2 linked regions of the Homo sapiens genome follow. The protein of the gene in region 1 purifies or fractionates together with the protein of each later gene. This does not show direct contact. Each region holds a gene or a part of one and is shown in the gene's direction. Other genes may lie near its edges.

Evidence for each region.
Region 2: the proteins of WDR49 (region 1) and L3MBTL1 purify together in Homo sapiens (affinity purification with mass spectrometry, with the first as the bait; one large-scale study listed by BioGRID). This does not show direct contact.

Annotation. Positions count from the first base shown.
Region 1 is NC_000003.12:167,643,797-167,647,615, reverse strand, and holds part of WDR49 (cilia- and flagella-associated protein 337), read left to right. Parts: intron 1-3,819.
Region 2 is NC_000020.11:43,527,950-43,531,768, forward strand, and holds part of L3MBTL1 (lethal(3)malignant brain tumor-like protein 1), read left to right. Parts: intron 1-707; coding exon 708-796; intron 797-1,253; exon of another isoform or gene 1,254-1,314; coding exon 1,315-1,419; intron 1,420-2,334; coding exon 2,335-2,470; intron 2,471-2,848; coding exon 2,849-2,940; intron 2,941-3,819. UniProt on the Homo sapiens protein: Polycomb group (PcG) protein that specifically recognizes and binds mono- and dimethyllysine residues on target proteins, thereby acting as a 'reader' of a network of post-translational modifications.

The DNA of each region.
Region 1 (3,819 bases):
CATTAAGGTGATAGCATGAAGACAAATCCAATACTACTGCAGTTGGCACAATTAGAAATGGCAGAGGAATTCTGTGGTGGTTTTATCTGATTTGTTAAAATTCATGAATAATGCTAGCAAATGGCGTCATCACCAAAACTCAAGGAAGTGAAGTTGTATCTCACTACAAATGAAAAATTTGCCTTCCAAATCCTGCTGCCTTTGTGCTGATTTTTGTGACAAGTTCTAACAGCTTCCTGCCTTTTCAAACTCTCTGTGTACTTTTACAACAGGCACTTACAAAAATTAATCTGGATCAGTGTGTGATGAAGAGTGCCTTTAGTAAACAAGTGGTTTAACCTTGAGTGTTGGCCAAAACTGGAGAAGTGAAGACAACCAAGAAAAGCTTGTTACAGAGGAGGGAGGGAGAAAGAAAGCAAAGATGTCTACTGCTGTTCATGTGTAGTGCATCAGCTTAGCCAGACTTGTGAACTAAGGGCACTGCTACTTTTGAAATTTTCCTGAGAGTTAAACAAGAAAAATGAATAAAAGAATGAAAGAACCATTATTTGTGGCATTTTGGTTTCAATTTGTCACATTTTGCCAAGTATAACGTATTAATGATGACACAAGACACCCTCACTCTATTGCTAGAAATAGGAATCCTCTAAACTGTCCCTTAGTGATTTCTGACCGTTTCCCAAGGCTCTACCTCATACTTGTGCAAGAAAAAGCCCCTTGGGGTCTTTTCTCCCTTCATCATGTCTCACCAACGTTCTATGGATGTGACTATTATGAAATCCTGATTCTCTAGGCACCGACATCTCTGTGGAGGCATTACCAGAGACATTATGTTCCTCTACTGCTTCACTTCCCATGTGTGCATGTGTACACCTTTCTCTAATCTTCTCAATAGACCCAAGGCCAAATTATCACACTAGTTTTGCTACAGATGTGTACTCTTCAATATGTGCTACATTTGGTTATTTAAATAAAGTAAGAATTTCATAAAATAAAGTTCAGTTCCTCACAAGCACCAGCCATTTCAAGTACGCAGTAGCTACTATACTGGACTGCAAAGAATATAGAACATTTTCATCATTGCAGAAAGTTCCATTGGACAATGCTGCTTCGAACCCTTTCTCATGACTTCGTACTAACTTGTTCTGCTTCCTCACTTCTGGACATATATTTGTGGCAAGGAGCTACTCTCAGCTCCTCAATCCCACTATAAACACATCAGACTGCCCATGTCTTAGAACCCAGAGGCCAAACTGATCCTTGGCCCCAGAGATAGCAGAAAATATTTCTCTTCACTCTAGTCTAAGACCTATTTTTCCATGTTCCCTTCCTAGGACTGTAAAGAATGGGAAGATCTATTCCTTTCAGGGGAATCCTTCCTTCTTCCTTCTGGTGCAACTCCCCTCCTCTCAACTCCCAACACACACACAGGTGTTTAGTCTGGATTTATGGTTCCAATGAGTCCATCACAAAATTATCTGACCTGGGCCATTACCCAAAGAGTTTCAGTCATGCTGATCATATTTTACTTACTCCTGTTTTAGGGCCTACCAGATGCTGGTGCCTCAGTTTGGAATATTTCTCTCCCATCCCCAACAATTTCCTGGCCAACTCCTACTCACATGTGTGTAAATACCACTGCCTTAGGAAAGCCTTTTCTTACCATGCAGGCGGGATTAGCGCCCTACAATGACCCTGTTTTCTCTTCTCATAGCTTCCTATATGTTCCTTTGGTTGCTTTCATCATAGATGCTCTGATTAACGCAATGCCATTATTTGTTTAAAGTCAAATAGAAGTCCCAGGCAGGCTATGAGAGACAAAATTGAGTGTGAGAGAATCGCAACATAGATTCTGGAGGAGAGAGGCCATGAGATGAGATATCTGTAGGAGAGAACAGACTGTTTAAGACTGGACCTTACAAAATTCTTCAAGGTGGTGGAGAAACAACTGGAGTTGGTACAAGAAATAAAGCAGCTGAGTTATTTTCCAGAAGTAGAAGGAGAAGAAGCAAACAAACAAAAAAGGAGGGTATAGCCAGCCATATAAAATTTCATTTATTTTTATGATTCCTATTTAGCAATCCTTGTATTATTAAAATAAATAAGACTGGGCATGGTGACTCACGCCTGTAATCCCAGAACTTTGGGAGGCCAAGGCGGGCACAACTACTTGAGGTCAGGAGTTCAAGACTAGCTTGGCCAACATGGTAAAATCCCATCTCTACAAAAATACGAAAACTAGCCAGGCATTATGGCAGGTGTCTGTAATCCCAGCTACTCGGGAGGCTGAGGGGGGAGAATTGCTTGAACCCGGGAGGTGAAGGTTGCAGTGAGCTGAGATTGCACCACTGCACTTCAGCCTGGGTGACTGAGCGAAACTCAATCTCAAAACTAAAAATAAATAAATAAATAAATTAAATTAAATAAATAAAAGTAACATTATTCTCATGGTAAAAAATCCAAGCTAAACATGAAATTTCCCCCTTAGCATGGTCCATTCTCAGTCATTATACTCCCCTGGGTAACTACTCTTAATATTTTCTGGTGTATTTTAAGTGCATTTTTATCCATATATACACATATACATATCTCATGTAGCTTTTTTAATGTAGAATATATTTACATATATTATATTTTATGTATTCAAGAAAGAATGCTACATAAATAGCTTCTAATCATGTGAAAAGGCACCCAAACTTGTTAAGAATTTGATTTGATACTCTAATCAGAAAGAAGACGTTCTTTTTATAATCATCAGATTGGCAAATATTAAAAAGATCAATAACATTCACTGATGGTGAAGAACCAAGGGAATAGGCACTCTTACTAAGATTGTAAATTGACAAAGCTTTTCTGGAAGGCAATTTGCCTTTATATATCAAATATAAAATGTACCACATGTATACTTTTTAATCAGCAATTCTAATCCTCCAAGCTTCCCTAAATACATTCTGAAGTACAGAAAAAAATACATGCAAAAATATGATTGTAATATCACTTACAAACTGGAGTATTTATAACCCAAATATTCATCAACTGGATGAATGGATAAGTAAATTGTGGTATACTCCTATTACTCAGTTATTAAAAAGAATAAGGAAGACTTATGTAAGATTGCCCAAGATTTGATGTTCAGTGAAAACAAGAAAATCACAGAATAATGCATAATCATATTCTAAAATAAAAAATGTACATATTTATGTGGTGTAGAGGTTATAGAAAAAGAGAACTGTGATTGTAGTGGGGCAAGTTATAGCAAATGGGTTTGTGGGCACCTTATCTATACCATAATTCAATGCAAACATAAATGTTCTTAAAATGCTGGCATGTCTTCATAACCTAAAGACTCTGGGGTACTATTTCTAAATGTATGTCTAGTAATGCTGAAATTAAGAGTGCTGAATTTAAAAGCAGTGCCTTTTATAGATACTATGTCCTTATACTCAGAGCATTAATTTCCTTCCATTGAATTTTAGCATTAAGAGAGAGAACATAGAGAACCACTCTACTGTCTTTATTTTACAGGTGATGAAGAGAAATCCAAAAAAAAAAAAAAAAGGTGGGGATTGGGGGGAATTTGTCATTTTCTATTGAGTGATTTGCAGAGCCAGAACATTGTCCAACATGATCTGGTAGCCAGTTTTTGTTTCTTTTCTCTAGTGAACAATTTAATTCTATTTTGACTTATTTATAATTTCCCAAAGTTATTTTATACATTATTATTCTATAATCTTGGCCATCATTCACTATTATGATCCCCTCCCCAAACTTGCTATTATCAGTAAAATAGATGAATATCTCTTCCTCAATATAGAAGAG
Region 2 (3,819 bases), on another chromosome or scaffold:
TGGTGCGATCTTGGCTCACTGCAACTTCTGCCTCCCAGGTTCAAGCAATTCTCCTGCCTCAGCCTCCCGAGTAGCTGGGATTACAGGCATGTACCACCACGCCCAACTAATTTTTGTATTTTTAGTGGAGACGGGGTTTCACCATGTTGGCCAGGCTGGTCTCGAACTCCTGACCTCAAGTGATTCACCTGCCTCGGCCTCCCAAAGTGCTGGGATTACAGGCGTGAGCTACCATGCCCAGCCGTGTTTCTTGTTTCTCCCAACCCTTCCACTTCTTCCTATTTTCATGTTTTCTCTCTCATTTCTCTTTTTCCTCTCCTTTCCTTGTGAGTTTAGATGGCATTGTGATTAAGTTCTCTGGCACAGGACTTGTCACTCAGCTTTGTCATGTCAGAGGACAGGGTCCCTCTGTGGCTGAGACTTTGTAACTTCAGTCAGTTGCTGAATAATCCAGAGTACTTCTGCTGACAGTGGCCTGAGCGGGTGGGGGGGAAGTGACGGGCAGAATTTGGTGTAGCCACACCTGAGACTGAGCCTCCCCTCAGCCCCGTGTCTGGCACCATCATGGTGGGTGGGACCAGAGGGTACATGTGAACACAGACAAAGATTTGTTTTGGGGGTGAAGGTAGAGCTTGGTCAGGGGAAGCCGAAGAAAGTCATATATCAGGAACAGCCCAGGAGTTAGCCTGTCTGTCCCCTTTCCACAGCAACAGGTGAGAAGAAGGAATGCTGGTCGTGGGAGTCCTACCTAGAGGAGCAGAAGGCCATTACTGCTCCAGTCAGCCTCTTCCAGGACGTGAGTTGGACAATTTCCCCGTAGGAACAGCTTGTCTTCCTAGCCTAGGGACACACCACCAACCTCAGGCCTTCTGGCGTTTTCTGTGTCAGGCATGCCTCAGTGGACTGGCAGAATGGAAAGGGAGAGACTGTTTAGGGGCCCAGAGTGGAAAAGGGCCCCCCATAAGGGGCTGGCAGGGTGGGAAGAAACAGAGAGGTGGAAGCTAGGCTCACTCATCACTGGGCCTGCAGACTTTTGAATTCTGGTGACTTCTACTCAATTCAGCATTGATCTTTCCATGACTTTGGTGAGAGGGAGCCCTTGAGTCCAGCCCTGACTCACCCACATTTTTCAAGGGACCTGGGAGATATTCTCTCTCTCTCTCTCTAGATCCCTGTAGTAACGATCCCCAAATAAGTTGCCCCTTTGGAAATACCAGGCGGGTGGGGCCTAAAGGCAGCTCCTTCACCCCAAGCCCACTAGGCAAGGATAAGGCTGGATGGAAGCTGGGTCCTCTCCACTCTGTGCGTTGACAGTCCCAGGCAGTCACTCACAACAAGAATGGCTTCAAACTGGGCATGAAGTTGGAAGGCATTGACCCTCAACACCCGTCCATGTACTTCATCCTCACCGTGGCTGAGGTGAGCTGGGGCTTGGTACCACCTTTCTGATGATGTCTCTCAGTGCAGATTGATGGATCTTGCTGGGGACATAGAAGGAAACACCTCCCTCCCCTCAGAGCACACACAATCTAGTAGTGGATGAAGCTGGAATACATAGAAAGCTTAAAACAACAAAAACCAGATGGAGTTCATGGGACAGTCCTATTATTGGATGAATGTATACTGTCCACTCTGGGGGAGCTTGAGGAGATCCCGAGGGCCAGGGATGTTGGCATGAGTCAAACAAGGTCCTTGTCCTCTAGGAGCTCACAGTTGTCTGGGGAATCAGCCAAATAAACATGTCAGTGACATGCCACAGGGGTGGCAGCAGACTTGAGCTGGGAGGCACAGTTGGGTCAGTTCTGTCTGAGGAGCAGCAAAAGCATAGAGGAAGGGCCTCCTTTGCAGAGTCTTGAGAGATAAGTTGTGAATAAGGAGGGAGCTCCAGGCAGAAGGAGCAAAGTGGGCAAAAGCCCTGGGGCATGGAACAGACTGCTACCTTCAAGGAATTGCCACTAGCTCAGCAAGACTGGAAGCAGAGTGCGAGTGGGGAGCAGTGAGAGAAGGTAGCAGAGGGAGCGGTCATCAGGAGCCCTCAGCAGTCCTGAGCCTTGGTGGCTGCCCTCAGAATTCTGTCCAGGGCTCAAAAGGGCAGGAAGCTGTCATAGGGTCCACCTCCCTTGCATCCAGAACTCAGGGCTCATGAGTACATGAACTGTCCTCACTGTAGAATAGGACAGGGTGGGGTACAATTGGGAGGAAAGAAAGGTGGGGTTGGGGAACCTGCTAGCATTAGAGCCCCTGAGACCACCAGACTGGGCCAGGAGAGGTGAGGCAGATGGGGAGTGGGGCATCTCCTGACATTGGAGTTCCTGATTCCCCTCATGGGGCCAGGTATGTGGCTATCGCCTACGCCTGCACTTTGATGGGTATTCTGAGTGCCATGACTTCTGGGTCAATGCCAACTCCCCTGACATTCACCCTGCTGGCTGGTTCGAGAAGACGGGCCACAAGCTGCAGCCTCCCAAAGGTAAGGCCTAGCTGGGTTGGTCACAGTGAGGCAGTGAGTCCTCAGACCCTTCGCTTCTTCCCCTTGGGTCCCCGGCTTCCAGCTCTTTTGTTTTCTGACCCTGTACCCTGTTCCAAAGCCAGCCTCTCTTCATCGCATCCTGATGACTCTGCGCTGGGGCCAAGTTGACCAGAAGCCCTAGAACTTCCGCTTTGCACTTGCCCTTTGAGTGTCTACTCAAGTCGTGTCCTGCTTCAGTAGTGGGGAATCCCTGGGCAAGTTCTTGAGGGTTGGGGGGAGGTCCTCAGGCATGCCTGATTCTGCTGCTTCACTGTGGGGTGCCCTTGCTGTGGCCCAGCCTCTGCACGGCGCTCTGTTCATGCCCCTCGAGGGGCCTAGGTTACAAGGAGGAGGAGTTCAGCTGGAGCCAGTACCTGCGCAGCACAAGAGCTCAGGCTGCCCCCAAGCACCTGTTTGTGAGCCAGAGCCACGTGAGTGCCCCTGAGTGAGAGTGGATGTCACTCCCATGTGCCAGAGTTCACTGCAGCTGGCCCAGGGTATCTGACTCATCAGAAGGGAGCTCATGTGCTGGTTCTCTCAGCTTTGTTCTGATCTCTCATATCAGATGGGAGGGGTACAGCTGGGCAGGGTCCAGGGCCAGAGATGGGAAGCTGGTTATAGGTTTTTCCCGACTTCCCTCCCTCCTTTGCTACTGCAGATACCCTGTCCTCACATCCCCTTGGAGCCCCTGGCCCACTACCCTAGTCTGAGCACTGAGATGTCATTGCTCATATATTCTTGCTTTGGCTTGCTCTGCAGTTCTTTGGTGTAAGGTCAATGCCTCTATTCTGGGAGCTTCTTTTTCTTTCCTTTTGCCCAACATTGAGACTCTTCCATTTATTTCCAACAATTCATCCCTTGTCCTTTCCTCTGTTCAGGGCAGCTGGCAGCTTATCCAGCAGTTAAAGTATCTCATAATCCCAACCAAAAGGCCTAAGAGATACAGGGAGCCTCCATTAAAAATATCATACTGGACCAGGTGTGGCGGCTCATGCCTGTAATCCCAGCACTTTGGGAGGCTGAGGCGGGTGGATCACCTGAGGTCAGGAGTTCAAGACTAGCCTGGGCAACATGGTGAAACCCCCATCTCTACTAAAAATATAAAAAATTAGCTGGGCGTGGTGGTGGGTGTCTGTAATCCCAGTTACTCAGGATGCTGAGGCAGGAGAATCGCTTGAACCTGGGGGGCGGAAGTTGCAGTGAGCCAAGATCACGCCATTGCACTCCGGTCTCAGCAACAAGAACGAAACTCCGTCTCAAAAAAAAGAAGTATGTATCAGTCTTACTGGCTGGGTGCGGTGGCTCACACC